Regions from separate parts of the Homo sapiens genome. Here region 1 is linked to region 2. The links come from fine-mapping of genetic effects on gene expression. A gene starts in region 2. The other region holds a variant in brackets. All regions are shown on one strand. Distances are from middle to middle.

Region 1 (16,216 bases), 420 kb before region 2:
GCCCATTTACTCACTGAGTCGCATAATGTGGTAAATGTACAATGCTGACATTTGTTCCGTCCTTATAGATTGAGGGTGGTACGGCCCTGAATTTTGCCTTTACTTTAGAAACCTGATTGAACTTAACCGCTCTCAGGAATCTGATTCCTAAGCTGAATATCACATTTTAGATTACTTACTAATTTGTGCATCTATCCACCTAGCAAATATTATGTGCCTGCTGTGTGCTGACTACGCACCAACCCTTGTGGTAGCTGTTACAAGTATAGAAATAAATTAATTAGATTTCCTCTTTCTCCTATATAGTGTTTTGTTTTGTTACTTTTTTTTTTTGAGATGGAGTCTCGCTCTGTCACCCTGACTAGAATGCAGTGGCGTGATCTCAGCTCACTGCAACTTCTGCCTCCTGGGTTCAAGCGATTCTCCTGCCTCAGCCTCTCGAGTAACTGGGATTATAGGTGCACGCCACCATACCCAACTAATTTTTGTTTTTTTTTTTAGTAGAGATGGGGTTTTACCATGTTGGTTAGGCTGGTCTTGAACTCCTGACCTCAGGTGATCCACCTGCCCTGGCCTCCCAAAGTGCTGGGATTACAGGCATGAGCCACTGTGCCCGGCCTTATTATTTTTTATTCATTAAGTTCTGGTTTAGAAGGTGCACTTAATTGGCTGGGTGCAGTGGCTCACGCCTATAATCCCGGCACTTTGGGAGGCTGGGGCGGGTGGATCACCTGAGGTCAGGAGTTCAAGACCAGCCTGGCCAACATGGTGAAACCTCATCTCTACTAAAAATGCAAAAATCTGCTGGGCGTAGTGGCACATGCCTGTAATCCCAGCTACTCGGGAGGCAAAGGCAGGAGAATCGCTTGAACCCTGGAAGCAGAGGTTGCAGTGAGCCGAGATTGTGCCACTGCATGCCAGCCTGGGCAACAGAGCAAGACTCAGTCTCAAAAAAAAAAAAAAAAAACCATAAACAATAATAAAAATGTATAATTACCTTGCTTGTATAGTTCCTTATAGTTTATAAAGGGCCCTCAGGTAGTTATAATAGCTAACATTGAGTTCTTACTATGTGACAGACACTTTGCTGAGTACTTTATGTTAGTTATTTAATGCATATAGCAACTCTATGAAGTAATGACTTTTAATCTCATTTTGTAGATGAAAAAATTTACTTGCATAAGGCTACTTAGTTTCAGACAGATCTGTGATTTCAGGACTTCACCCAGGATATCAATTAGAATGTTTTTGCCCACAAATAAAAAAGACAATCTGATTAAAAATATCTTAGCCAATAAGTCTGTTTTTTCATAACGAGGTCAGAAGGTTGGTTTCAGGATTGGTCATTCAACAGGTTACCAGGGCTCTCTTTGGTTTCTCTGCAGTTCTCTTGGCTCTTTTTTTTTTTTTTTTTTTTTTGAGACAGAGTCTCTCTTTATCGCCAGGGTGGAGTGCATTGGCATAATATCGGCTCACTGAACCTCCGCCTCCCAGGTTCAAGCGATTCTCCTGCCTCAGCCTCCCGAGTAGCTGGGACTACAGGCCCGTGCCGCCATGCCCAGCTAATTTTTGTATTTTTAGCAGAGATGGGGTTTCACCATGTTGGCCAGGATGGTCTTGATCTCTTGACCTCCTGATCCAGCCATCTTGGCCTCACAAAGTGTTGGGATTATAGGCGTGAGGCACCGCACCCGGCCGGCTTTCTTCTCATGGTTGTAAGATGGCTGCCTCATAAGATAATATCTCAAGACAGAAAGGAAGGGTCATTCCCTTTCATGCATTGCTCTTTTGATTTGCAAAAACATCCCTGAGAAGCTCCCCAGCCAGCATACTCTCGTGCTCCATTGTCTAGAACTGGCTTACTTGCGTACCAGCAAACCAGTCACTGGAAAATGGGAATGGGGTTGCCATGATGGGTTTAGACCAATAGTGGTTCAGCTCTTGGGCTGGACCTGCCTTTTCCGAGCACTTTGCTGCCTGCCTGATACCTGAGTAAAATCAGGGCTCTCTCAGGAAGAAAGATGGGGGAAATGGCTGTTGGTTAAATAAACAGTTCTTTTATCTTTATAATAACCAGTTTTTTTAGATGAATTAACCAAGTTCCAGAATAACTGGGTGACTTATCTGAAGTCATAGAGTTAGCAAAAGTATATGGTTGAGAATTTCCAATTCCAGTTCAGGTTTTCTGATTCCAGTTCCTAGTACTTTTCAAAGGACTAACTTTACTAATTTGTTGATGTGCATTCTTATTTGTTTGTTTCAGGTGCTTGAAGTTTCTGGGAAGTCGGCATCCAACCCTGGTGCTTCCCTTGGTGCCAGAGCTTCTGAGCACCCACCCATTTTTTGACACAGCTGAACCAGACATGGATGATCCAGCTTGTATCCTCTGTGCTTAGGATGGGCCCTGATGTGTTGGCAGGCAGCTTTGGCATCTCCTTCTGCAGTGTAGCTAGGGTGGTCTGAGTTTTCTTTTCTTTGCTTTTCTTTCCTTTTTTTTTTTTTGAAGACAGAGTCTCATTCTGTCACCCAGGCTGGAGTGCAGTGGCTTGATCTCGGCTCACTGAAACCTCTGCCTCCCGGGTTCAAGCAATTCTCCTGCCTCAGCCTCCTGAGTAGCTGGGATTATAGGCGCCCGCTACCACACCCAGCTAATTTTTGTATTTTTAGTAGAGACGGGTTATCACCATGTTGGCCAGGCTGGTCTCAAATTCCTAACCTGTTGCTTGGGCTGGAGTGCAGTGGCACCACCCCAGCTCACTGCAACCTCCGCCTCCTGGATTCAAATGATTCTCCTGCCTCAGCCTCCCAAGTAGCTGGGATTACAGGTGCCTGCCACCACTCCCGGCTAATTTTTGTATTTTTAGTAGAGACGGGGTTTTACCTTGTTGCCCAGGCTGGTCTCAAACTCCTGACCTCAACTGATCCACCCGCCTCAGCCTCCCAAAGTGTTGGGATTACAGGCGTGAGCCACCATGCCTGGCCAGTATGTACTTTGATAGGCAATATAGTTGCTTACTTTATAGGCAAAATCATTTCCATTTTTTTGTATTCTTGGCAGTCTCTGGCATTTTTAAAAACCTTTGGTAATTGGGGGTGTGGGTGGAGTAGGGGAATGTATTTTGTTGTTTGTATTTGCATTTCTTTGATTATTAGAAAATCATAGTCTCTTGATGGAGATTTTGGAGGTGGAAAGTGAGAGTGCCAGAATCTGGCCAACCTTTTATACTTCCAAGTTTACTTAACCCAGTGATCTATCAGATATTGCAGTTTTGGTACTTATTTTCAATGCTGCTAAAACCTGTCCAACAATGCGAGCATTGTTCTCAGATCACACCGTCAGGCACTATGCCTACCTCCGAGACAGTCTTTCTCATCTTGTTCCTGCCTTGAGGGTATGTTGAAAACATCTGTTGTCCTTGTTTTTATTTTGCATGGGGTAGGGGTATTTGTGTTCATGTTTTCCTTTGAGATGGGGGTCTTGTTATGTTGCCCAGGGCGGTCTCAAACTCCTGGGCTTAAGCCATCCTCCTGGCTCAGCCTCCCAAGTCGCTGTGATTACAGGTGAGCACCATTGTGTGCAGCTTGTTTTTGGCTTTTTATTTTTTGTGCTTTGTGGTTATTAAATAGTAGAAAGCAGTCCATATATTCTCTGAAAACTTGTTTGTTCATTCTCCTTCTCTCTTGGGCTCTTTGCCATTGTTTTATACTTTTGCTTTTGTATCCTTTACCTTTTAAGATGATTCATTTTTTTTGGTGTCCCTGGGTTATTGATATTAGGCAAGAAGAAAGGAACCTGGAACAATAGATTATATTTTAGATCAAGAATTTAAATTGTTATATATTTATTTATTTATTTTTATTATTATTACCTTTTGAGACGAAGTCTCGCTGTGTCGCCCAGGCTGAAGTGCAGTGGCGCGATCTCGGCTCACTGCAAGCTCCGCCTCCCAGGTTCACTCCATTCTCCTGCCTCAGCCTCCCGAGTAGCTGGGACTGCAGGCACCTGCCACCACACCCGGCTAATTTTTTGTATTTTTTAGTAGAGACGGGGTTTCACCGTGTTAGCCAGGATGGTCTTGATCTCCTGACCTCGTGATCTGCCTGCCTCGGCCTCCCAAAGTGCTGGGATTACAGGCATGAGCCACCACACCCAGCCTAAATTGTTATATTTTAACTATTACATATAGCCATGATTCTCCAGAAGTGCTTATTTTTTAAAAATAAAACCTTTACTATTTTTAAAACCTAGAGATATAAAGAAGAAAATTTAAAAATGGATCGTAATAATAATAGCAAACACTTCGTGAATGCTGTGGCCCAGGTACTCTTCCAATCTCTCTATTTGCATTAACTCATCCCTGCTTGGGTGACTCCAAATCACTTTATTTGGAGTAATATACAAAATGAGGCCAGGTGCGGTGGCTCATGCCTGTAATCTAAGCATTTTGGGAGGCTGAGGCGGGTGGATCATCTGAGGACAGGAGTTCACGACCAGCCTGGCCAACGTGGTGAAACCTCATCTCTACTAAAAATACAAAAATTAACTGGGCATGGTGGTGGGCACCTGTAGTCCCAGCTACTCGGGAAGCTGTGGCAAGAGAATTGCTTGAACCCAGGAGGCAGAGGTTGCAATGAGCCAAGGTTGTGCCACTGCACTCCAGCCTGAGCGACAGAGTGAGACTCCATCTCAAAAAAAAAAACAAAAAACAAGTAGATACAAATTGAAAAGTGAAATACTCTTTGCTCTCTCCTCCCCATCCATCTTAAAAGGTAACCACTTTTAACAGTAAGAATATCTGAAGGGCTAGGCCAAAAATAAAAAAAAATTATTCTCATGAAAAAATTGTATGCTATATAAGTTTATTTGGGAATAAATCATTACTCTTCCTTCAAGTGAAAGATAAGATAGTGTTTTAAAGATAAATGTGGCCGGGTGCAGTGGCTCACGCCTGTAATCCCAGCAGTCTGGGTGGCTGAGGCAGGCGGATCACCTGTGGTCAGGAGTTCGAGACCAGCCTGACCAACATGGAGAAACCCTGTCTCTACTAAAAATACAAAATTAGCTGGGTCTGGGGGCGGCCACCTCTAATCCCAGCTACTCAGGAGGCTGAGGCAAGAGAATCGCTTGAACCTGGGAGGTGGAGTTTGCAGTGAGCCGAGATGGTACCATTGCACTCTAGGCAACAAGAGTGAAACTCTGTCTAAAAAAAAAAAAGATGTAGCAACAGTTTAATTTTTAGTCTCCTTCCTATGGTTGGCCCATTTATTTCAGTTAGCAATAGAAAATATTATACCTTTTCTGTTTTTCTCCTGGCAGCTGTGGCTGTATTGGGTAGACCATGTTTGCATTTTGTCTCTTTCTCTTTAACTCCCAATTGTTGCTGAGGAAGGGGAGAAATGTTATTTATAGAATCTCCTAGCCTTTTTTCCCCTTTGTTTTGTTTAGCTCACATTTTTAATGTGCTTTTATGTGTTTGTGTGTGTGTTACCAAAAGCTGAGCCACCAAACTTAATGACTCTATAATCCCACTGTGTTTGCTTAGTTACCAGGTAGAAAACTGGTGTCATCAGCTGTTTCTCCCAGCATCATACCTCAAGAGGATCCTTCGCAGCAGTTCCTGCAGCAGAGCCTTGAAAGAGTGTATAGTCTTCAGCACTTGGACCCTCAGGGAGCCCAGGAGCTGCTGGAATTCACCATCAGGTAGGGTAATCATCCCTTCATCTGACAGAGTTAGTGCCGTTACACTCAGCTTGACTGTTCTGAATTCTGGTGTTGGTTACTAGGCTTGATATTCTGACTCTATTGGTCTACATTCACACACGGTTTTATGGTCTGTTTATATTTGGATTAGATTGTGGTTTGAACATATTTTTTAAAAGAGCTCTTTATATTCATGACTCGATTGATGATTAGTACACAACAAAATAGTTACAAAGAACCTGTTTTTAGTTTTTTAATTTTATATATTAGGATGAGTGACCAAAATGCAAAGTAACAGTGGCTAAAACAGGAGCAAAGTTTAAGTCTTCCTCATAGGCAGGACAGGGCTGAGATGACCATCAAGGATCTAGGCTTGCTCATTCTTTTTTTTTTTTTTTTGAGACAGGGTCTCACCCTGTCACCCAGGCTGGAGTGCAGTGGCATAATATCAGCTCACTGCAACTGCAGCCTCCTGGGCTCAAGTGATTCTCCCACTTCAGCCTCCCAAGTAGCTGGGACCACAGGCATATGCCACCACACCCGGCTAATTTTGGCTTTTTTTTTTTTTTTTTGGTAGAGTCGAGGTTTCACCATGGTGGCCAGGCCGGTCTCAAACTCCTGAGCTCAAGTGATCCTCCCGCCTCGGCCTCCCGAAGTGCTGGAATTACAGGCGTGAGCCACTGTGCCCGGCCTAGGCTCATTCTTTCTTGTGTCTTCATCTTCTGCATCAAGCAGCTCTGCTTAACAATTCAGAATCTAACTGTCCCCCCTGTATTCCATCCTGTGGGGAAAAGGAAACGGGAAGAGAAAGGTATCATCTCCACCCTGTGGTTTGTTTAAAGACACTTCCCAAAAGTTGTACACTCTAATTTTACTTGCATTCCATTGACTAGAACTTAAGTCACATGGCCATCTCTCACTTCAAGGAGCGAGGACATGCAGTCTTTATTCTGGGTGACTAATGCCTGGTTTACATGCGATGACTCTAATACTCAGGAAGAATGGGAGAAAGATATTGGGGAACAACCAAAAGGCTCTGCCAGACCTTCCTCAAAATGGCCTGAATGATATGAAAAGAATTTAAACTCATTTGCTTTTAGCAAAAGCAGTATTGTTTGCTCTTAAAAGATTAAAAAATTATGTCTTTTAAGAGCAAACAGTACTGCTTTTGCTAAAAGCAAATGAGTTTAAATTCTTTATTGTTTGCTCTTAAAAGAGAAAAATATTATATCGTCCAGGTGCAGTGGCTCATGCCTGTAATCCCAGCACTTTGGGAGACCGAGGCGGGAGGATCACTTGAGGCTAGGAGTTCAAGACCAGCCCCGCTGAGTGAAACCCCGTCTCTACTAAAAATAGTAGCCTGTAATCCCAGCTACTTGGGAGATTGAGGCACAAGAGTCGCTTGAACTCGGGAGGCGGAGCTTGCAGTGAGCCAAGATCATGCCACTGCACTCCAGTCTGGGCAACAGAGTGAGACTCCATCTCAAAACAAAAAAGAAAGAAAGAAAAATATTATATTATATCATTTGTATCTTGGTTGAGATCTCTTTTGATCTGCCCGGAAGAGTATTTGGCACCAGCCACATTCAACTAATAATTTTTAGTGGATGATTTCATTCCATACACTAAGAAACAAGCTCTGTGCTAGATACAGATCAGCTAGCTAGGATTCTGCCCTTAGAGAGCCCATGTAGACAAGATGGATATAGACAAAGACTTATGATGGTGGATAACAGCGCTTTGTACTTTGTTCATGCTTTCCTGTCCATTATTGCATCTTAACATGTTATAAAGCCGGCCAACTGAACCATCCTCCAAGTTATGTTTTCCCATTATATTAGGTCATTCATTCACTTAGCAGCATTAACTATTTGTTTATTCTAATAAGCCAGTTGCTGAGGGTAGAGAGAAATAAGAAATGACATTTGTTCTTAAGGTACTCACTGTTTATTACAGGACGCAGAAATCATCAATTTGATAAATGATACAGTGAAGAGAAGCATAGATGCTGTGGAAAAACAGATGAAAGGCCCCGACCCATCACAGTAGTAGTGGTGAGGGATGCTTCACAAAGGAGAAGATCCTTTAGCTAGTATGAAATGATAACTGAGCATGTCAGTTTCGTAGTCCATGTGCAGAAGAGAATTCCAACTTCAGCAGACATTAGAAGAGCTGGGAGACCTGAGGGAGAACAGCCTCCCAGAACTGCAGTGGTGTAGTATAGAGATTGAGTGAATGGAGCTTTGAAGGCAGACTCATTTTGGTTAACGTCTGAGCTAATACAGTCATGCACTGAATAACAACGTTGTGGTGGTCCCATGATTATATTTTTACTGTACCTTTTTTATGTTTAGATATACAGATATTTACCATTGTTTACCATATTTACCAATATTTACCATTGTAACCAGTGTTACAGTTGCCTACAGTCTTTAGTACAGTAACATGCTATACAGATTTGTAGCCTAGGAGCAACAGACTATCCCATATAGCCTAGGTGTGTAGTAGGCTATACCATTTGGATTTGTGTAAATATACTCTATGTGATGTTTGTGAGACAAAATCACATAACAGTGTATGTCTCAGAATGTATCTCCATCGTTAAACAACGCATGACTTGTAGTTGTTTGATCTTAGTCAACTATATTGCTCAGGGTTCATTTGCAGAAAACAAAAGAGGCTTTTAACTAATTTAAGCAGAAAGAAATTTATTACAGAATGTTACATGGCTCACAGAGTTGTTGGGAAAGCTAAAGAAACAGACTAGGTGGAATATCCAGGAATGATTTCCAGAGCCACACAATGAGTGGGCCACCAAGGAGGCTGATGTTCCTGCTATTATCAGGAAAGCTGCCTATTGAGTCAGGATGCTACCAATAAAGCTGCTGGCTCCAGAACCGTGTCTTGCATTCTGCCTTTCTTCCGACTTAACATTGTTCCCTATACAAAACTCATGCGAATGTGTTTGATTGACTGATAATAAATCACGTCTGGAACCTAGCTCAAGGGAATCTGAGAAATGCAGTTTTTAACTTTGCAGCTTATGTAGTCCAGGAAGATACAGTAGATGAAGATAGGAATACCACGTGTGAGTGAGCCAAATCCAGTATATGCCGTAAGTACCAACTGCTGTTAGCTCCAGTTTACTCACCTGGGGGACTTGGTGACTTGCTGGGTGCAGGGGTGGGAGTGAGGAACTGAGAGATAAATGGGTGGTCTGATACTCTAGTAATCCA[C/G]TAAAAAGTTGAGGGTGTCCTGGGCTCCCCTGGGAGTGCCGTGGGCTTGGGCTGGACAGGTCGTGGGGAGAATGCTGGGTAGGTGGGTGCAGCTGCAGCCACAGGGGAGCCAGAGTGTGCAGCATGTGTCCAGCGTGAGCCTCCCGAGCTTCCACCTGGGTCACATAGTCTTTGTGCCCCTGGGAAGCCTCTAGAAGCCACACAGAGGCCCATAGCAACTCTCATGCCCTGGAGGGTCTCACCAGCCACTCCAGTGATGGGCCCTCCAGTAGCTCTGGGACCCAAGCAGGGATGATTCACAAAGTCCCTACCGAGCACAGGCCTTCACAGTTCAACAAGAAAATCCTACTGTTGACTGGATTTTTAAAAATCAGTGGAGGAGATCACACTAGAAATGATAGATATTGCAAGAAACAAAGCTTGAGGGAAAGCTTGTTACCGTAATGAATGGACTCACACATATCACTGCTTTGCAGTGATAGCATCAGCCAAAAGGGCTGCGAACATGAATCATTAACAAGTTGAAATATGTCAAAGATGGCTGTGTGGTGTGAAGAAGCTGCATTAGCTGCACAGGCTAAGGCTAAATGATATTCTAAATGGCAGAGTGTTCACCTGAATACCATCACTGTAATCAGTAACAATAAAAGATAGGGAAAGCTGAATTATTTTTAAGGTTGAAATGATTTTAGCATGACAGTTTGTTCTCTTGCCACTGTACATTGAATCATATACTTGATGTTTATTGTGTGCCTGTGATGTGCCAGTAACAGTACTCTAAACTAGGAGTCACCAGACTACAGCCTGTGGACCAAAGCTGGCCTGTTGCCTGCTTTTGTATGTAAGATCTGATTGAAGCACAGCCACGCTCATTTGTTTAGGTATTGTCTATAGTTGCTTTCATGCTACAATCACAGAGCTGAGTAGTTGCCACAGAGACCATAAAGTTACTATTTTACCTTTTACAGAAAAAATTTGCTGACCCTGCTGTAAGTTCTGGGCAGTCCACAGCTCTGTAAGCGGAGATTCCAGTCCTTTCTATATCTCTTGTGGAGCGATTTCTCTTCTCCCTCAACAAAGTGTTTAGTTTTGGAGGCCACTGAATGAGGTTGTTGGCCCTGAGCCCAGTAAAATAAAGTCTACTTCCTGACTCATCCCCACGTAAATAAACATTTAGATTTTGTCCTTGACAGTTTTATCCTGTTGGCACTAAAGCAAGTGCAAAAGGCACAAAAGCTAGCCAATTTGGTGATCAGCTGCAGTGCTGGCTCTTAGAAGGTACTCGCCTTCATGGTCTGGGTTTCCTGAGATGATAGTCTTGCTAGGCAGTGGCCGGCCAGATCACTGTCCTAAGTTCGGGGCTCTGTGTTTCTAGCTTGAGTGTGTATTCAGGAGCACAGGCAGGATGGTGAAAAATCTGGAAAGGGAAGCAGATGGACCATAGCAGTGAGGGCACCTGCGATGCTTTACAACCATCATTGCAGACATGAAGTAATTTGCTAAGAAGAGGCAGAACGAGGATTTGAGTTCAGCTTTGTCAACTCTAAAATCCATATTCTGTGATGTGCAGTGATTTACAGGGGGTTCCTGTATCACATGAGATTAGATCAGTTGACCCCTGGGGTTCTCCACAACTTACACTTTCTGAGTTGTTATGGAGTGAAATGTTAGCCTTTCATACAGAAGGTTCTCTGATGAGGACTGGAGCCACGTATTTGTTAGTATGAGTGTAAAACAAATTTCACTGTCATACACAGTGCCCTGTTTTGTAATCCAAACAGCCACTTAACCCAATGAAGATCTCACCTATGAGCCAGATGCTGTGGCTCGCACCTGTAGAACTGTTGTGAAGATGATTGTAATGATATGTGGTAAAAGCATTTTGAGAATATCAGTTACATAGATAATAGTTGGACATTTATGGATGTTTGCTTTAAAATTTAAACTAACTGGCCGGGCGCGGTGGCTCACGCCTGTAATCCCAGCACTTTGGGAGGCCGAGGTGGGCGGATCACGAGCTCAGGAGATGGAGACCATCCTGGCTAACACGATGAAACCCCGTCTCTACTAAAAATACAAAAAATTAGCCAGGCGTGGTGGCGGGCGCCTGTGGTCCCAGCTACTCGGGAGGCTGAGGCAGGAGAATGGTGCGAACCTGGGAGGCAGAGCTTGTGGTGAGCAGAGATCACACCACTGCACTGCAGCCTGGGCGACAGAGCGAGACTCCATCTCAAAAAAAAAAAAAAAAAAATTTAAACTAACTATGGCTTATTTAACATACTGGACATGCTCTTGACATTTTGTAACTAAATCAAATTTTATAAATGTAATCATGTTTAAACTCACTAGCAGGGTTGAAGGGGATTGTCTTTTAAGGAATGCTGCAGTCATTTGTCTGCTATTTCTCAGTATGAATAGTGACCTCCTGTTTTTCAAAGTTTACATTTTTGTGTTAAGTCCATGAAAGTGCTGTTGCTATACACACTGTTGTTTCAGGAACCATATCACCTTAGAAGTGTTCCATAATAGAGAATTGTTCTTTTGGAGTAAAATAGCTCATTATAACCTGAAACAGAAGGGGCTTCATTTATCAGAGATAGAAAGAAATGTACTACTTTTCTTATGGGAATTCTTTTACACACTAACCATTGAAGAACATGGGATTTTTTAGTTGAATTCTTTAAAATCCTCTTTTTGCTTTGAAACTTTTATTGTCTTTTAGGGAGACTGCCTATTGTGTAGTATTGGAACTGGTCTAGTAATTAAAGAGTAGAAATATGCGTTTGTAATCTGTCATCATCTAGGTGCAGGAATAAAGATGGCGTTTTAGAAGTCACCAAGACTTTGTATTTATGTTGTATTTCCTAACATTCCTTTTTGCTCTACTAAGCTACTAAGAGACATAATTATAAATTTGATTTTTAGAGATTCTAAGAGATTGAAAAAAATAAACTGCATTTGATTTGCACATCCAGAATCTTTTTGACTATCTTTAATAGTGATTTAAATAATTAATTCAGCCTATTGTGTAAGCTTAAAAAGAATCACTCTATGTAAATGTGTTTACACATAGTGGCATAGTGGCATCATATAGATTGCTAATGTGTGTGTTCCTGGGAGGAACTGTTTTGCTCTGCCTGATAGCATCTAAAGAAAAGTGGCCCAGTGTATCCAGTTGTTGTTTTCTTTTTTGGAGATGGAGTCTCCCTCTGTCGTTCAGGCTGGAGTGCAGTGGTGCGATCTCGGTTCACGGCAACCTCTGCCTCCCAGGTTCAAGCAATTCTCCTGCCCCAGCATCCCGAATAGCTGGGACTACAGGCGCACTCCACCAGGCCCGGCTAATTTTTGTATTTTAGTAGAGATGGGGTTTCACCGTGTTGCCCAGGCTGGTCTCGAACTCCTGAGCTCAGGCAATCCACCCACCTTGGCCTCCTAAAGTGCTAGGATTACAGGTGTGAGCCACCGCGCCTAGCCGTATCTAGTTTTAAATTAGTTTTGGTCTCATCTGTGTTTGATGTAATTAATAAATAAATGAAAAGAGTTTAATAGCAAATAAATAAATGAGATGCAATATGATATGGTTAAAAAAATACTTTTGGAGTCAGAGCTGACTCTGTCTAGTTCATGTCGTTTTGTTGTTTATTCTGTGACCTTAGGCAAGCCACTTAAATTCTGATCTTTAGTTTCCTGTTCAGTGAAATAGGATTAATTGCAATTCATATTGTGAGGATTAAGTGAGCTCAAGTAAGGAAACAGCTAGCACAGTACAGTGCACATAGAATGTGCTCAGTGTACCTTTCTCATTAGAGCCCGTAGTCTCCTGATGGATGTCTAGACTGAGGCTTCCTAAGAATTGTGAGCATAAAGTGACAAAGAGAGGAAACACTGGGACACAGGATTTTTCCCAGAGCTAACAAGTTTCCATTTTTGTTTGTACAGAAGTTCAGATTTCTTATGGCTAATTGTGTTGGATTGGGTTACATCTTGTTCTGTGCACTTCAGAACAACTGCTACAATTCTGGGGCAGGGGAATAAAATAACATTTGGAATCAGTTAGTTAATGTACAGTCAGTTGGTCTGTATTCTGTATAATTGTCGTAGAAGGCAGAATCTTCCTGGAGAGGAAACACAAATGCTTCTGAAGTAGAATACTTCAGGGCTGTCTCTTGCAAGAGAAAAATCAGAGAAGTGAAAGGAAGAGACCATCTGGCCACCAAACTCATACTTCACAGTTGGGCTTAGCTAGTCTATGGTCTTGGCTTTCATTGTGCTGGGTTCCCATGCTTTGGGTAGGCCCTCCAGGACCAGTTCAAGCAACCCAAATGAATAAGAAGTGATATATATCATACATTAATTCTTCAATCACTTTGAGAGTAATTACTCTTTGCCCCTTTGTAGGCATCTCCTTCTTGATGTCAAAGTCCCCAGGAGGCATCGTTAACTATCATAACGTTACCCACCAAGCATGAGATGGGAGGAAGTGGCATAGTCCAGTGGACAGTTTTTTCCAGGCTACTGTGAAACCTGATGTGTTATGCCGGCTCTGAAACAGCTTCCCAAGTGACTCAGACCTTAAGGTTTCCCACAGTTTCCATTTCTATTCAGAATTTAATGTTGCTATTAAAAAGTAATGAGGCAGCTTTCTATGAATGCTGAGATGGTTAGGTAATACACAAACACACACACACTCACATTCCTCCCCTAAAAAAGAAGAAAGCAAAGAAAACCAGTACTTTTTGTAAATGCATGGCATATCTCAAAATTCAAAAGAAACTGGTAATAGTAGTTGCCTCTGGGAAGGTATACAGGGTGGCAGGGCTACAGGGCACAGGCGTAGGAAGGGGAACTAATTTAATTTAATTTAATTGTATATCCTTTGAATGCTATACCTTAAGTATGTATTAACTATTCAAAAAAACTAAATTTTTTTTTAAAGAACATCTGTTCTTTAAAGTCGTAGAACATTTTCATCACTCCAAGAAGTTCCTTCATGCCCCTTTGCAAAGTTGTTTGGCTTTTCCAAGCCTCTGTGAAACCCCAGGAATTCAAGGAGGCCATGGAGAAGAATCCACTTTTCTATAGTAGCAAAATATGGTGAGGAAAGAGAAGTGATTACTCCTAAAAAGAACATATAATTGTTGGTTATTCAATGACAAGGAGTGACAGTGTAGGTAAGGGGCCCAGAGCCAGAACCCAAGGCAAGTGTGTTTAATAACAGGAAAAAAGCTAAATAACTTTTGGTACAGCTACCTAGCAGTATATTCTGCAGTCATTAATTCTTTATGAAGAATTATACAACAACATGACAAAATACTTAGGGTGTAATGTTATGTACCGAAAAGAAGGGGAGCCAATCATAATCCCAAAAGATAGTCCAGAACATCATAGTCCTAAAGTGTTTAAATTCCAAAAGACTAAAATCCCTAAAGTCTAAAATCCGAAAACCACAGCCCAGAAAATATCAAAATCCCCAAAATATAATTATGGAAGAAATAGTTTTAAAAACTTAAAGATATTTATTTTTTAAAGGGGAACTTATTTGAGAAACATAAAAACACAACAGAATACTTTATACACCACTTAATATAATAAAACAGACAATAATAACATACATTTTTGCAAGCATAAACACTCAGGTTACTAATAACATTTGGGTGGGTCTAACAGTTATGAGCAGATGAGCCATATTTATAAAGAAATTGGTCATAAAGGGAAAGGTATAAATGCATATCACTTTGGTTGTTAATTGTGTATACCCAGCTTTTTAACTCTGGTCATCTGAAATACTGTGCCCAACAACCTCAAGTCTTTTGATGAGATTGATGGAAACTGTGCTGGGTCACCACTGCATATGCAGTCACCCAAAGAGCTGAGATCTCAAGAAATTTTATCTTTCACAAATGCAGATGTACGAAAAGGATATCTCATTTATCGAGGAAGTTTCAACATTTTATGTACACACTCAATGCTTATACACAAAGTCAGTATTGTGATAATGCACTTTCATGGAGTCAGATTTCTGATATCCAAGCAGCAGAACCCAGAGAGTCCGTTTTGCTATTTTGCGTTTTTTTGTTTTTTGTTTTTTTTTGTTTTTTTTTTTTTTTTTGAGACAGAGTCTCAGCTTATCACCCAGGCTGAATACAGTGGCGTGATCTCGGCTCACTGCTGCGACCTCTGCCTCTTGGGTTCAAGCAATTCTCCTGTCTCAGCCTCCCAAGTAGCTGGGATTACAGGTGTGCACCACCACGCCTGGCTAATTTTTGTATTTTTAGCAGAGACAGGGTTTTGCCATGTTGGTCAGGCTGGTCTCGAACTCCTGACCTCAGGTCATCCACCCACCTCGACCTTCCAAAGTGCTAGGATTACAGGCATGAGCCACCGATCCCAGCCCATTTTGTCTTAAGTATTTGTTCTCTCCTGGCCACTGGCTGATTGGATGGTGCCCGCCAACATTGAGGGCAGATAGTCTCCACCTAGTACACTCAGATTTATACACTAATCTCTTCTGGAAACACTCTCATAGACACACCCTCAATGTGTAAAACAAAATAATGTTTTACCAGGTTTCTGATATTCCTTAATCTGGTCAAGCTGATACCTAAAATTAGGTCCACAAGTCCACCCCTTGTCAGCTTGGCACTCATACGCATCTCCTTAAGCCATATTTAATTTCCAAATAAAGACAATAACATGGTAATAGTTGTGCCTAACATGATACAACTGACATGATGCAACTATCCTGCATGCAACCCAAAACACACTAATCACTTCCCCAGAATTTGGATGTCAGGATTTCAACATTTGTGATTGTATGTTTTGGGATTATGATCTAATCCCCAAACTTAATTCTGCTTTCTGACTACAACTGTCAAAAAACATGCATACAAGAAATGATTAGAAGTAAATATTCCAGAAATTCCTATAGTTTATCTGTAGTTTAGACCTACCACTGTTTGATAGCCACCAGATACATGGGACTCTTGAGCACTTGAAAAGTTGTTAGTCTAAACTGAGATGTGTTATTAAGTGCAAAATACACACTGGATTTCTCAGACTTAGTATGAAAAGAAAATGTAAACTATCTAATTAATAATTTAAAAAATACTGCGTGGTGAAATGTTAATATCTTGGATATACTGGGTTAAATAAACTTTTTAAAAAAATTAACTTAGTCTTTGTATCTTCAAAATTAACTTACATCTTTGTAATTTAAAAACTGTGGCTATGAGAATATTTAAAATTATATATAGCTCATGTTATATTTCTATTGGACAGT
Region 2 (16,216 bases):
GCCTCCCAAGCAGTTGGGACTACAGGTGCCCACCACCACACAGGGCTAATTTTTGGTATTTTTAGTAGACACGGGGTTTCACTGTGTTAGCCAGGATGGTCTCTGTCTCCTGACCTCGTGATCCTTTCACCTTGGCTTCCCAAAGTGCTGGGATTAGAGGCATATGCCACCAAACCCGGCCTTCATTTTTATTTTTATTGTTCGAGATGGAGTCTTGCTCTGTCACCCAGGCTGGAGTGCAGTGGTTTGATCCTGGTCACAGCAACCTCCGCCTCCTGGGTTCAAGCAACTCTCCCTCAGCCTCCCAAGCAGCTGGGATTACAGGCATGCACCACCATGTGGGATCATTTCAAAAGCTTCCTCAGTCACACGTCTTGTATTTAGACTGGGAAGACTCGAATGGCTGAGGGCTGGGACAGACAGGACATCTCACAGTATAACTGTGTGATCTCTCCATGTAATCCCTCCAGCATGGTGGTGTGGAGGCAGCTGGGCTTCTTATAGGCTGGCTTCATGCTCCAAAGGCCCATAGCCCCAGAGAGAGCCAGGTGGGAGCTGCATTACCTTTTCTGACGCAGCCTCAGCAGTCATGCAGTCTCTTTGACCACATTCTACCTCTTAGAAGTGAGTCAGGGCCAGACGTGGTGGCTCATGCCTATAATCCCAGCACTTTGGGAGGCTGAGGTGGGCAGATCACCTGAGTGAGGTCAGGAGTTCAAGAGCAGCCTGGCTAACATGGTGAAACCTCATCTCTACTAAAAATACAAAAATTAGCTGGGTGTGGTGGCACATGCCTGCAATCCTAGCTACTCGGGAGGCTGAGGTAGGAGAATCGCTTGAACCCGGGAGGCAGAGGCTGCAGTGAGCCAAGATCGCGCCATTGCACTCCAGCCTGGAAAACAGAGGGAGGCTCTGTCTCAAAAAAAAAAAACAGAATTAGAAGAAGTAAGTTGGCCAGGCACAGTAACTCTCACATATAATCCCAGCACTTTGGGAGGCTGAAATCGGAGAATCATTTGAGCCTAGGAGTTCGAAACCAGCCTGGGCAATGGTGGTGAAACTCCATCTTTACAAAAAAATACAAAAATCTACCGAGAGCAGTGACTCACACCTGTAATCCCAGCACTTTGGAAGGCCGAGGTGGGCGGGTCGCCTGAGGTCAGGAGTTTGAGACCAGCCTGGCCAACATGGTGAAACATCATCTCTACAAAAAAATACAAAAATTAGCTGGGCGTGGTGGCAGGCACCTGTAATTCCAGCTACTTGGGACCCTGAGACAGGAGAATTGCTTGAACCCAGGAGGCAGAGGTTGCAGGGAGCTCAGACCGCGCCATTGCCCTCCAGCCTGGGCAACAGGAGTGCTACTCCATCTCAAAAAAAAAAAAAAAAAAAATCAGCTGGGTGTGGTGGTGAGCACCTATGGTCCCAGCTACTCAGGAGGCTAAGGTGGGAGGATCGCCAGAGCCCAGGAGGTCAAGGCTGCAGTGAGCCGTGATTGCGCCACTGCACTCCAGCCTGGGATACACAGTGAGATCCTGTCTCAAAAGAAAAGGAAGTAAGTCAGGAAGGCTAGACCATGTTCAAGGTGGGGAGGAGTTAGACTCCACTCCATGAGGGGTGTCAGAGAATTTGCAGACATGGGCTGGGCATGGTGGCTCACACCTGTAATCCCAGCACTTTGTGAGGCCAAGGCAGGCAGATCACAAGGTCAGGAGTTCGTGACCCGCCTGAACAACACAGTGAAACCCCCATCTCTACTAAAAATACAAAAATTAGCTGGGCAGGGTGGCAGGCACCTGAAATCCCAGATATTCAGGAGGCTGAGGCAGGAAAATTGCTTGAAACTGGGAGGCGGAAGTTGTGATGAGCCAAGATCATGCCACTGCACTCTTGCACTCCAGCCTGGGTGACAGAGCGAGACTCTGTCTCAAAAATAAAATAAAGAAATAAAGTAATAATAATAATAAGTGTGTAGCTCCTCCCCTCGTCTCTTGGTCCTGCTCCCCTTCACCTTTGTCATGAGTAGAAGATCCCTGAGTCCTCCCCAGAAGAAGATGCTGCCTTTCTTCCTCTAGAGCCTGTGGAACTGTAAGCTGATTAAACCACCTTTTTTTTTTTTTTTTTTTTTTTTTTTTGAGACAGTCTTGCTCTGTCGCCCAGGCTGGAGTACAGTGGCAGAATCTCGGCTCACTGCAAGCTCCACCTCCTGGGTTCACACCTTTCTCCTGCCTCAGCCTCCCAAGTAGCTGGGACTACAGGCACCCACCACCACGCCTGGCTAATTTTTTGTATTTTTTAGTAGAGACAGGTTTTCACTGACAGGATGGTCTTGATCTCCTGACCTCGTGATCCTCCCACCTTGGCCTCCAAAAGTGCTGGGATTATAGGCGTGAGCCGCCACGCCCAGCCAAACCACCTTTCTTTATAAATTATCTAGTCTCAGGTATTTCTTTTTTCTTTTTTAGTCTCAGGTATTCCTTTTTTTTTTTTTTTAAGACAGAGTCTTGCTGTGTTGCCCAGGCTGGAGTGCAGTGGTGCAATCTCAGCTCACTGCAAACTCTGCCTCCTGGGTGAAGAGATTCTCCTGCCTCAGCCTCCCCAGTAGCTGGGATTACAGGTGTGCGCCACCACGCCCAGCTAATTTTTTTTGTATTTTTTAGTAGAGACGGGGTTTCACCATGTTGGCCAGGCTGGTCTTAAACGCCTGACCTCATGATCTGCCTGCCTCAGCCTCCCAAAGTGCTGGGATTACAGACATGAGCCACCATGCCCGGCCTTCAGGTATTTCTTTATAGAAGTGTGAGAATGGAGTAATACAGAAGTCCTAAATCAGTCTCACTGGGTTAAAATCAAGGTGTTGGTAGGGCTGCAGTCCTTTTTTTTTGAGTCAGAGTCTCGCTCTGTTGCCCAGCCTGGAGTGCACGATCTTGGCTCACTGCAACCTACCCCTCCTGGGTTCAAGCAATTCTCCTACCTCAGCCTCCCAAGTTGCTGGGATTACAGGCGCCTGCCACCACACCCAGCTAATTTTTTAAATTTTTAGTAGAGACAGTGTTTCACCATGTTGGCTAGGCTGATCTCAAACTCCTGACCTCAAGTAATCCGCCTGCCTTGGGCTCCCAAAGTGATGGGATTACCGGTGTGAGCCGTGGCACCCAGCTGGGCTGCAGTCCTTTCTGGAAGCTTCACAGGAGAATCTGTTTTCTTGCCTTTTCCAGCTTCTACAGTTACCTACATTCCTTGGCTCATGGCCCCTTCCTCCATCTTCAAAGGCAGGAATATTGCATCTCTCAGATCATTCTTCCCTTCCCTAGCCACACCTCCCTTGGGCTCTGACATCAGGTGAGAATGATTTTATGCTTTTAATGATCCATGTGATTATGTTGATACCACATAGAAAATCCAGGATAATCTTTTCTTCTTAAGGTCCATACCCTTAATTGTCATGGTGATCAGCGACTATCCAGGACCAGAGGTGCAGACAGTAAAAAGAATGTTTACTCGGCTCACTGCAACCTCCGCTTCCCGGGCTCAAGTGGTTCTCCTACCTCAGTCTCCTGAGTAGCTGGGATTACAGGCGCCTGCCACCATGCCCGGCTAATTTTTGTATTTTCAGTAGAGATGAGGTTTCACCATGTTGGCCAGGCTGGTCTTGAACTCTTGGACTCAAGTGATCCACCCGCCTTGGCCTCCCGAAATGATGGGATGACAGGCATGAGCCACCGCACCTGGCCTACCGGGTATCATTCGAACACCCAGCTAACTCCCTACTCTAAGTCACACCTGAGCCATTTTATCATGGGGGCTGTCAGAGGCACTGCTGTTTTTCACTGAAGCCCATACCCAATCCCTCGGCCTCGTGTGCTTTTCCCTCACCCACTTCAAAGGCCCGTGGCTTTGGGACGCCTCTCCACCTCATTAGTCATTCCCTCCCCTGCCCATCGCGTCGAAACACAATGCATTGTGGTTATTTATGTCCAGAGCTGGTTCCTCAACTAGGCTGTCAGCTAGCCAGTGCAGAGGGTGTGTGTTAGTCACATTTGTATCATCAGCCCCCGATGGGCCATGGCTACATACTTGTTGAGTGAATAACACAAGGGGCATCTTTAGCATTTCTTTGTGGGGCCCAATCTCCTCAGCGAAGGTACAGGGAATTCTCCACACTAACTAGGCCAGCTGGGTCTGGGTGGCATTTTATGACTTTTTTGTTGTCGTTATTTTGCGATGGAGTCTTGCTCTGTCACCCAGGCTGGAGTGCAGTGGCGTGATCTGCAACCTCCGCCTCCCAGATTCAGACGATGCTCCTGCCTCAGCCTCCTGAGTAGCTACGATTACAGGCACGAGCCATCAAGCTGGTTAATTTCTATTTTTTTGGTAAAGATGAGGTTTCACCATGTTGCCCATGCTGGTCTCAAACTGGGCTCAAGCGATCCACCTGCCTTCATCTTCCAAAGTGCTGGGATTACAGGTGTGGACCACCACACTCAGCAGAGTAAAAAATGTTTAACAGCTTTATTAATATAGGATTAATATGCTGTACAATATGCCATTTAAAGTATACAACTCAGTGTCTTCAGTATATTCACAGGGTTGTGCAACCACCACCACCATCTATAATAATTTTAGACAATTTCTGTTTCCCAAAGAGAAACTCCCTACTTATTAGCAATCACTTCCCATCCTTGCCCCCAACCTAGCCTTCTGTCTGTATCCATAGATTGGCCTCTTCTTGGACATTCTATATAAAGTGAATCATACCATATGTATTCTTTTTTTTTTTTTTCTAGAAGGAGTCTCATTCTGTCACCCAGGCTGGAGTGCAGTGGCGTGATCTCGGCTCACTGCAACCTCCGCCTCCTGGGTTCAAGCAATTTTCCTGCCTCAGTCTCCCGAGTAGCTGGGATTACAGGTGCCCCCCACCACACCCAGCTACTTTTTGTATTTTTAGTAGAGACGGGGTTTCACCATGTTGGCTAGGCTGGTCTCGAACTACTGACCTCATGATCTGCCTGCCTCAGTCTCCTAAAGTGCTGGGATTACAGGCGTGAGCCACCACGCCTGGCGATTTTTGTATTTTCGGTAGAGACAGGGTTTCCCCATGTTAGCCAGGCTGGTCTTGAACTCCTGATCTCAGATGATCCACCCACCTCAGCCACCCAAAGTGCTGGGATTACAGGCGTGAGCCACCTGGCCAGGCAATATATATTATTTTGTGTCTGGCTTCTTTCACTTATTAATAGCATCATGTTTTGGGAGGTTATCCATCTTGCAGCATTTATCTATCAGTCTGTCTATATATATTTTTTGCAACAAGGTCTCTCACTCTGTAGGCTGGAGTGCAGTGGTGTGATCATAGTTCCCTGCAGCCTCTACCTTCTGGCTCAAGCGATTCTCCTACCTCAGCCTCCCCAGTAGCTGGGACTAGAGGTGCTCACCACCACACCTGGCTAACTTTTCGTAGTTAGGGGGTCTAGCTATGTTGCCCAGGCTGCTCTGGAACTCCTTGTCTCAAGAAATCCTCCTGCCTCTGCTCCCCAAAGTGCTGAGATCAAGCCTGGCCTCCTTTTTATTTTTATATTTTTGAGACAGAGTCTTGCCCTGTCTTCCAGGCTGGAGTGCAGTGGCACGATCTTGGCTCACTGCAAGCTCTGCCTTCTGGGTTCACGCCATTCTCCTGCCTCAGCCTCCCTAGTAGCTGGGACTACAGGCGCCCACCACCACGCCCGGCTAATTTTTTTTGTATTTTTAGTAGAGACGGGGTTTCACCCTGTTAGCCAGGATGGTCTCGATCTCCTGACATCGTGATCTGCCCGCCTCGGCCTCCCAAAGTGCTGGGATTACAGGCGTGAGCCACCGTGCCCGGCCAGCCTCCTTTTTAAGTAGTTTTCCATTGCACAAATGTAGCACATTTTATTCATCCACTCATCAGTCTCTAGTTAATGCATCTGTTGTATATGTTCAGATTGGCTGGGGTTCAATACCCACTGGACAACTTCCTAGATGAGTGACTTTTGGTAAATCATAATCTCTCCAAGTCTGCCTCAGTTTCTTCAATTATAAAATGTCAATAATAATGCAATGTACCTCATAGAGAGTCATGGTTGTATTGCCACAGTAATTAATAAAGTGCCAGGAACTTTATAAGGATTATTTAACACCCTTATTATTTACAAAGTAGGCAACAGAGGCTATTGTGGTGGTTCACACCTGTAATCCCAGCACTTTGGGAGTTGGAGGTGGGAGGATCACTTGAGGCGAGGAGTTCAAGACCAGCCTGGGCAACACAGTGAGACCCCCATCTCTACAAAAAAATTAAAAAATTTTGTAGCTGACTCTTTGGACAATAAAGAATTTTATTTTAGAAAATTAGCCAGGTGGCTGGGTGCAGTGGCTCACGCCTGTAATCCCAACACTTTGGGAGGCTGATGAGGGTGGATCACAAGGTCAGGAGTTCAAGACCAGCTTGGCCAAGATGGTGAAACCCCGTCTCTACTAAAAAAATACAAAAATTAGCTGGGCATTATGGCGGGCACCTGTAATCCTAGCTACTGGGGAGGCTGAGGCAGGGAACTGCTTGAATCCAGGAGGCAGAGGTTGCAATGAGCCGAGATCACGACACTGCACTCCAGCCTGGGCAACAGAGTGAGACTGATCTCAAAAAAAAAAAAAAAGAAAAAGAAAAAGAAAAAAAGAAAATTAGCCAGGTGTAGCGGAGCGCACCTGTGGTCCCAGCTACTCTGGCAGGCTGGGGTGGGAGGATTGCTTGAGCCCAGGAGTTCAAGGCTGCAGTGAGCTCTGATTGCACCACTGCATTCCAGCCTGGGCGACAGAGCAAGACCCTGTCTCTTAAAAAATAAATAAATAAACTGCAATGTTTCTGGCAGCCCAGATGCCACCAGCCTCACTACTCTCTGAGAGGTGGGATTTTAACATGCAAAGGCCCACTAACCCGATCACGTCTCACAACTTCAGCTGATTAATACTTTGTTAAAACCTAGACCACGAAAACAGACAGAGCCCGGCGAGGTGGCTCACGCCTGTAATCCCAACACTTTGGGAGGCCGAAGCGGGTGGATCACGAGGTCAGGAGTTCAAGACTAGCCTGGCCAAGATGATGAAACCCCGTCTCTACTAAAAAATACACAAATTAGCTAGGCGTTATGGCGGGCGCCTGTAATCCCAGCTACTCGGGAGGCTGAGGCAGGGAATTGCTTGAACCTGGGAGGCAGAGATTGCAGTGAGCCGAGATCGTGCCACTGCACTCCAGCCTGGGTGACAGAGCGAGACTCTGTCTCAAAAAAGAAAAAAAGAGGCTGGGCACGGTGCCTCACGCCTGTAATCCCAGGACTTTGGGAGGCCGAGGCGGGCGGATCACGAGGTCAGGAGATTGAAACCATCCTGGCTAACACGGTGAAACCCCGTCTCTACTAAAAACACAAAAAATTAGCCGGGCTTGGTGGCAAGCGCCTGTAGTCCCAGCTACTTGGGAGGCTGAGGCAGAAGGAGAATCGCTTGAACCCAGGAGGCGGAGGTTGCAGTAAGCCGAGATCCAGCCTGGGCGACAGAGCGAGACTCCGTCTCAAAAAAAAAAAAAGGTTAAAGAAAAAAAGAAAAGAAAACACAAGATAATCCTGTCCGCAAACGCTTAGCAGTCTTAAATCGGCCTGGTGGAAGGATGCAGGGACACTCCCCCACCCTGCCCCCCGAAAAAGGGGAACGCGCAGCGCGAGGTTCCGGGTCCGCCAAGCTCCCGGCATGCAGCGCGGCGATCCCGGCGAGCACCTTGGCGCGCGGAGCTGGCACCTTGGCGCTGTTGGTGGCGGCGGAGACAGCTGTGAAGTGTGAGGTTCTTTGTCTGCTGGCAGCTAGGGGCGACGAGGCGGGACGTCATGGAAGTGTAAGTCTTCTCGGGCGCGTCCCTTTTCGCCCGAGGAGCCCAACGGTTTGACCGCTGAGAGCTGAGAGCCGAGAGCCGTGGGGACTGGGCGACCCTCGTACGGGAGTGAGGGCAGCGGGCCGGCCCTGTCCGGGAGGGCCGCGGGGTGGTGACGGGGACGAACGGGACTCTCGCTTTGCCCTTCCGAACCTTCGCTTCCCCTCCACGCCGTGTCTGGTGCGGGGCCGAGCACTTCCGTGTCCGGCTGCCTTTCAATGTGCCCCCTCCTTCTCTCATTCGTTTACCAGCGTTTCTGGGTCACAGTGCGGGGGTGGAGCCCAGTCTGGTATCCGACCCCGGACTTAGAAGGCTATAAAGGCCTGAGTCTGTCCGCCCTGAAAGTAGGTGGAGGAGAGACGAATCAGGGCCGGGTAGAGCTCTGCTTGCAGCTGTAGGCCCCTGGAGAGCCCTCGGAAGAGCTGCCCTCGGAATTTGATGGGAGCAGTAAACACTGTGAGGGAAGGGGCTGGTTTTGGGGTGGAGAAGGGAAGGACGTGAACCAGGACTGGGACCAGAGAAACAGCAGGGGGTGTGTGGGTGTGTGTGCAAGGCGAGGGTAAAAGATTTTCTGACAGTTTAACTCCACGTGGTCTTTTCCATGCTTGCTCGTTGCGCCTGGTGCAAATGGAAGATTTTGCATCTACTCTGAATGTGGGCTTTATACGGTTGATATTAATTTGTAGGTATTACTATCTTGTGTTCTCTTTGAACTGATTATTTGATACAGTTTCCTTTATGTTCTTTTGCCTCATGTTTAATGGTTATATGTACTATGGCATTTCACATTTTTACATTTTTAATTAATTGTTTTTTCTTAAGAAACAGGGTCTTGCTCTGTCCCCCAGGCGGGGTGTAATCATGGTTCACTGCAGCCTCACTTTCTGGACTCAAGCAATCCTGCTTCAGCCTCTTCAGTAGCTGGGACTACAGGCCCACGCCATCACTCACCGCTAATTTTTTAAAAAAAGTTTTGTAGATGCAGGGTCTCACTACAGCCCAGGCTGGTCTCCAGCTCCTGAGCTCAAGTGATCCTCCTGCTTTGTACTCCCAAAGTCCTGGGATTGCAGGCGTGAGCCACTTCACCTGGCCTCTTCCGATTTTTTTTTAAACACAATATGTCTGTGTAACTGAAATGAAAGGCTCATGAAACAATAATGTGTGGCGTACACTCTCATATTGTCTATTTTTTATTAATATGAATGGGGCCAACCGTGGTGGCTCACACCAGCAATCCCAGCACTTTGGGAAGCTTAGGCAGAAGGATCACTTGAACCTGGGAGGTGGAGACCAGCCTGGGCAACATAGGGAGACCCTGTCTCTGCAAAAAATTAAGAAGTTAGCTGGGTGTGGTGGTTCATGCCTGTAGTCTCAGCTACTTACGAGGCTGAGATGGGAGGATCACTTGATCCCAGGAGGCTGCAATGAGCTGAGATAGAGCCACTACACTCCTGCCAGAGTGACAGTGTAAGGCTCTGTCTTAAAAAAAAAAAAAAAAAAAAATTGAACCACTGAATTAATTTTGCAACCCACTGATGGGATTTCATCTGCAACCTAAAAAACTATTCATATAATTTACTCTAGTCCAAGCCATCATTACTAATTTTTCCCTCTTTACTAGAGCATTTCCTGTGAGCATACAACCCTGCTTTAGAGAATTCATCTTAGAAAATCCTCCGTCCCCACATACATGTCCCCCTCTTACTCCATTTCTGCTTCCCATCCCAACAAAACTTCTTGAAAGTGCTGATTAGCCCCTCATTCTCTCAGCCATTCTGTTGGGCTTTCATCCTCACTGGTCTACGGGAATGACTGTTAAGATTACCTGAACCAGCGGGGCGTGGTGGCTCATGCCTATAATCGCAGCACTTTAGGAGGCCGAAGTGGGCGAATCCCCTGAGGTCAGGAGTTTGAGACCAGCCTGGCCAACATGGCATAACCTCCTCTCTACTAAAAATACAAAAATTAACTGGGTGTAGTGGTGGGCGCCTGTAATCCCAGTAACTCAGGAGGCTGAGGCAGGAGAATCGCTTGAACTCGGGAGGCAGGGGTTGCAGTGAACCAAATTGTGCCACTGCACTCCAGCCTAGGTGACAGGGCAAGACTGTCTCAAAAAAAAAAAAAAAAAAAACCTGATCCCTCCATCTTGTCAAATTCAGAGGTTGATTTTCTGGCCTCAACTTTCTTGATCTCTCAGCAGTGGTTAATACAGAAACTCTAGAAACTTTCCTTTTCTTGTGATGTATGTTCCTTTGCGTATTTCCTCCTACATCAAGGACTACTTCAGTGTCCTTCCCTGGGTCCCGTTCCTCTCTTGCTTGATGTCTAAGTGTTGAGTGGTATCTTAGGGCTCAGTCCTGGGACCCTTTCTCTCCACACTCTGTCATTTCACCCATCTATGTGCTGATGGTTCTCAAAGGTATGTTTCTAACCTTCTTCTCATCATCTATCCAATTGCATAGACCAAAAATCTAGCCCTCTCTCTTCACTCCCTAAATCCAGTCCATCAGTGGTCCTGTTGTTTCCACCCTAGAATATATTTTGAATGCAGTTACTTTTCACCATCTCCAATGTTAGCTTTGTAGTCCATCACCTCTGGGCTGGATTAAGCAATAGCCTTTGAGTGTTCACTCTTCCCCAGCCTCCATTCTGTTCTCCACATGGCAACTGGAGTGATCTTAAGTAATGATTGGAACATGTCGCTCCTGGGTAAAACCCTTCATTGACTTTCCATTGTACTTAGAGAAAATCTCCATCTCTTACCAGGACCTGCAAGACCCTGTAAAACCTCACCTACTCCCCAGCCTTACCACTTGCCACTCTCCCAACCTCCCAGACACACACTTTCCACTGACAGGTATTTCCTTCTCCTCTAACCTTCTAAGCACTTCCTGAGGACCATTGCGTTGTGGTACCCTCTGTCTGGTATACTTTCCTCCTCGCCCTCGTCCTGTTCTCTTCTTTTTATTGTTCTTTTTTTAGTTCGCTTTTGAGATGGAGTCTTGCTCTGTCACCCAGGCTGTAGTACAGTGGCGCAATGTCAGCTCACTGCAACCTGTGCCTCCAGGGTTCAAGATTCTCCTGCCTCAGCCTACCAAGTAGCTGGGATTACAGGCGTGTGCCACCACGCCCAGCTAATTTATGTATTTTTAGTAGAGACGGGGTTTCCATGTTGGCCAGACTGGTCTTGAATTCCTGACCTCAGGTGATTTGCCTGCCTCAGCCTCCCAAAGTGCTGGGATTACAGGCGTGAGCCACCACACCTGGCCACCTGTTCTTGAAGGTTGTGTCCCTTTTCAAAGTTGCCTTTCGTCTTCAGTAAGTCTAACTAACATAAGTTCTTTTTGTCTTTCATAGTACCTTGATTTACTTTCCCTCAAATAATTACAAGTTGCAATAATAAATGTATGTTTACTTGTTTGGAGGGTGGGGACCAGTGTCTGTTCACCTAGTGCTTAGCATTGCATCTGGCACACAGTAGGCATTCAGCAAATACTTGTTCAATAAAGTAATATAACAATACTTTATTAGCTTCATAAATATAGTCATCTCTCAGCGTCTTTGGGGGATTGGTTCTGGGACCCCCTGCGTATACCAAAATTCACAGATGCTCAAGTCCCTGATATAAAACGGTGTAGTATTTGCATATAATCTATGCACATTCTCCCATATACTTTAAATCATCTCTAGATGACTTATTATGATACCATGACATGTAATACCGGTTTTTGTCCATGGTTCCTGGCTCATAACTACCATAGCCTTTATTACTTCCTAAATGACTAAAACAGTAAGCATAACTTTTGTTAAAGTATTTGTCCTTTGTCCAAGGTTCCTGAAGCGGCCTTGGGACAGCTTCAGAGCAGTAAAGGTGAAAGACAGTCTTTTGTTAGAATGTTGGGGCACTCTAAGCCTCAGAAGCAGGCCTCAGAAAACAGAAGCTCTGTCTGTCTCTTGCCCTCTAATCATCCCCTGCCTTTCTGTCTTAGAGCTGGTTGTAAAGAAATTCTCTGACCTATCTCGTCTGATTGTTTCAGAGGGGGTCCTGCCCCTTACCCAGTAGGAAGGAATACCACACACAGAGGCCAGGGAGAATCTGGATGGGCCTTGCTGGGTGTCTGCACTCAGTCTTAGTATTAGATCACACTCTCTGTCCAGTCAATTACTGTGAGGTTGGCCATGCTTCAATCATCTCTCTAATGAAATCTCTACAAAACGCCCAAGAGAACTTCTGGATAGTCTAACAGGTGGAAGTTTCTGGAGGGTGGTATGCCTGGGGAGGGCATAGAGCTCTGCGCCCCCTCTCTATCCCTCACCCTGTGCACCACTTCATCTGTATGCTTGGTAATATCCTTTAAATAAACCAGTAAACCTAAGTAGGTGTTTTGTGAGCCATTCTAGCAAATTAATGAAGCCTAAAGAGGAGGTCTTGGGAACTGCAGCTTGAAGCCCGCCGTTGAGAAGTTCTGGAGGCCCTGACTTGTGTGACTGCTGTCTGAAGTAGGGGCAGTCTTCTGGGACTGAGCCCTCAGCCTGTGGAATCTCACACTGTTTTCAGATAGTGTCTGAAATGAATTGGATTGGAGGGTACCCAGCTGGTGTTGGCTGCAGAATTGATTGCTTGTTTATTGGTAGAGAGAAAACCCCACACATCTGGTCACAGAAGTCTTCTGTATTGATTGTTGTCGAGTGAGAGCAGAGGAAAAACTGTTTGATTATCAACCAACTTGTCATATCTGATGCAATGTAAAGGCTGTGTAAATAGTAGTTGTACTGTGTTGTTTAGGGAATAATGACAAAAAGCAGTCTATCCATGTTCAGTGTAGAGGCAGCCATCCTAGGCCTAACTACATAGTACATGTCAGCAACAATGTAGCATTTTCTTAAAATTTTTTTTTGCAGCCCGGTGCTCATGCCTGTAATCCCAGCACTTTGGGAGGCTGAGTGGGGCGGATCATGAGGTCAGGAGATCGAGACCATCCTGGCTAACACAGTGAAACCCCTTCTCTACTAAAAATAGAAAAAATTAGCTGGGCGCTGTGGCGGGCGCCCGTAGTCCCAGCTACTATCGGGAGGCTGAGGCAGGAGAATGGCGTGAACCCGGGAGGTGGAGCTTGCAGTGAGCCAAGATCGCACCACTGCACTCCAGCCTGGGCGATAGAGCGAGACCCCGTCTCAAAAAAAAAGAAAAAAAGAAAAAGAAAAAAAAATGTTTTTTGCATGTTTTTCATTTGAGGTTGGTTGAATCTAAGGATGTGGAACCTGAGGCTAAGGAAAGCCGACTGTATAAATTCATTAGCTAGCATCCTAGTTGCTAGGCGTGTATATTTTCTGATTTTCCTAAGTGAAATGGTTTGAATCACGGGGTTTTGTTCTTGTAACAGCCTGTCCCCTTCTGCCAAGTAGTCAGTGACTTCCTGTAACCAATCAAGAATTTTGCAGCCAGTAATTCATGGGAAAATGAGGTTTCCTGAGATAGACATGTGATTTGGGAGTGGAAGGGCCCTGGAGTGGAAAGGTCTGGAAGCCTAACTTCTGGTCCTCACCTGGTCTTCAACAGGAGGCGTGACCTTTGGAAGTCTGCTCCTTAGGATCTTTAGCAGAACCTTGAGTTGCAGATACAGTTGACCCTTGAACAACACGAGCTTGAACTTCATGGATCTCCTTATACGCAGATTTTAAAAAATAAATGCAGTTGGCCCTCCATATCTGCAGGTTCCACATCTGCAACCAAACACAGAGAATGAAAATATAGTATTTGAGGGATGAGAATATACCCACGTATGTGGAGAGCTGGCTTCCTAGCTGCTGGTTCTGCAAGGCTCTCTGGGACACAAGCATGTTTGGATTTTAGTATATGTGGGGGTCCTGGGACCAATCTCCAGTGAATACCAGGGGATGCCTGTATATTGTACCTCTATCAGACACTCCCAGAACCTGAAGTGAGGAGGCACAATGAACAGCTCCCCTAAGTTTTTGCTACTTTTTAAAATTCTGATTGAGGAAATACCTACTAAGTAACTAATACATAATAATAATAATAATAATAATAATAATAATACCTGAAATTTCTTCTTTTTTTTTTGAGATGGAGTTTCGCTCTTGTCACCCAGGCTGGAGTGCAATGGCGCAATCTCGGCTGACTGCAACCTCCGCCTCCCGAGTTCAAGCAGTCCTCCTGCCTGAGCCTACTGGGTAGCTGCCTGGCTAATTTTTGTATTTTCAGTAGAGATGGGGTTTCATCATGTTGGCCAGGCTGGTCTTGAACTCCTGAGCTCAGGTGATTCTACCGCCTCGGCCTCCGAAAGTGCTGGGATTACAGGCATGAGCCACCGCGCTGGCCCAGAAATTTATTTAAGGGGAGGAATATTTATGCTTTATTTGATTGACAATTTAAAAATAAAAATTTCTTGACCATTACTTGGAAATGTATTTTCGTCAAGTAAAAGCATACAATTTTTTTTTTTTTTTGAGATGGAGTCTCACTCCATCACCTAGGCTAGAGTGCAGTGGTGCAATCTCAGCTCACTGCAATCTCCACTTCCTGGATTCGAGCGATTCTTCTGCCTCAGCCTCCTGACTAGCTGGGACTACAGGCATGCGCCACCATGCAAAATATTTATATAGCAAAATTAGGTATTTCTATCTATAAGGTATTTGCTATTTGGCTTTGTCTATAAATGATCATTTATATGGCTGGAAAAGTTTGTATCCACTCTTTTATTCTTGAACGTAATATATATAATTGGGAAAATAGACATTATCCTCTGTACCATCTTTTTGAGGTAGTGTCAGGATTTCTTTCCTTTTACAGCTGGAAATACTCATATTTAGAAAAGGTGGGTAATAGGTACTATAACAACTCAGTAACAGGACTGGAAAGAGGATACTCATTTGCTAGCTCCCAAGAGAATGCTACAAGTTAAGTTGTTCATTGACTTCAGAAGCTGCTCCGTTTGCTTGTACCAGAGTTTAGGTTTTCAGAGCATGACTTGATAGCATAGGTTGGGCATAGGAGAATTTGAGCAATTATTTTCGTCATTGCCTGTGTAAGAGTTGACTGTGTGGCAATTAATAGGCACTGTTTGGCCGGGCACAGTGGCTCACGCCTGTAATCCCAGCACTTTGGGAGGCCGAGGTGGGTGGATCACAAGGTCAGGAGATCAAGACCATCCTGGCTAACACAGTGAAACCCCATCTCTACTAAAAATACAAAAAATTAGCCGGGCGTGGTGGTGGGTGCCCGTAGTCCCAGCTACTTGGGAGGCTGAGGCAGGAGAATGGCATGAACCCGGGTGGCGGAGTTTGCGGTGAGCTGAGATCGCGCCACTGCACTCCAGCCTGGGCGACAGAGCAAGACTCCGTCTCAAAAAAAAAAAAAAAAAAAAAGGCACTGTTTGCATGTGCCATTTGTGTATGTGTTTGCTTCTAAGGAAAGTCCACCAAGAGATCATTTTGTTCTGTTTATTTGGAATTCAGTTTCCTCAAGTAGTTGTTTACATCCACTTGACTCACCATTTTAAGCAAATTTTACAAGAAGTGTCAAATGGAAAGTCAGCTTCAGTCATCTAATTCATTACTTAAGGAAATTAAGTAACTGCCTGCCTGTAGTATAGATTTAGACAGTTGTTTTGTTTTTTTTTTTACTCAAGCATTGCTATGTTAATTTGCCAGGCTGCTTTTAGAAAGCACCAGACACTGGGTGGCTTAGACAGCAAACACTTGTTTTCTGACAGTTCGGGAGACTGGATCAAGGTGTAGCAGGTTTGGTTTCTTTTGAGGCCTCTTGCCTGAGCTTGCAGATTGCAAACTTCTTGATATGTTCTCACATGGTCTCTCCTCTGTGTGCACAAGTCCCTGGACTTTTTTCTAGACAGTCTTTAAAATGCACTTAGAGTATTTGCTTTAAACACATGTCAATAAAATGAGTACTATTCTTTCTTTCTTTCTTTTTTTTTTTTTTTTTGAGATGGAGTCTCGCTCTGTCGCCCAGGCTGGAGTGCAGTAGCCCCATCTCGGCACACTGTAAGCTCCGCCTCCCGGGTTCACGCCATTCTCCTGCCTCAGCCTCCTGAGTAGCTGGGATTACAGGCGCCCGCCACTACGCCCGGCTAATTTTTTGTATTTTTAGTAGAGACGGGGTTTCACCGTGTTAGCCAGGATGGTCTTGATCTCCTGATCTCGTGATGCGCCCGACTTGGCCTCCCAAAGTGCCGGGATTACAGGTGTGAGCCACTGCGCCTGGCGTAAAATGAGTACTATTCTAAGTCCTACAGGAGAATA

Alleles and levels. Positions count from the first base shown, and alleles are read on the strand shown. Sizes are in standard deviations (SD) of each study's normalised expression.
For the expression in hypothalamus of the gene that starts at base 7,774 in region 2, allele G in region 1 goes with a higher level than allele C (moderate effect, 0.63 SD a copy in GTEx).

The links.
Region 1: its variant is fine-mapped to the expression of CRCP in hypothalamus (GTEx, PIP 0.93).

Annotation. Positions count from the first base shown.
Region 1 is chr7:65,689,465-65,705,680 of GRCh38, forward strand. The region is part of intron 3 of LINC03006 (long intergenic non-protein coding RNA 3006); the gene reads right to left. It also overlaps the pseudogene INTS4P2. Among named protein-coding and RNA genes, the nearest start is that of SNORA22, 58 kb to the right of the region's middle. RefSeq lists a silencer at 10,212-10,506. The variant C/G (reference allele first, on the strand shown) is at 8,938.
Region 2 is chr7:66,107,074-66,123,289 of GRCh38, forward strand. It overlaps CRCP (CGRP receptor component), which reads left to right and starts at 7,774. Exons shown (of 6, transcript NM_014478.5): 1 at 7,774-7,897. The coding sequence starts at 7,890. RefSeq lists silencers at 6,650-6,840, 8,269-8,563 and enhancers at 7,487-7,616, 8,154-8,682.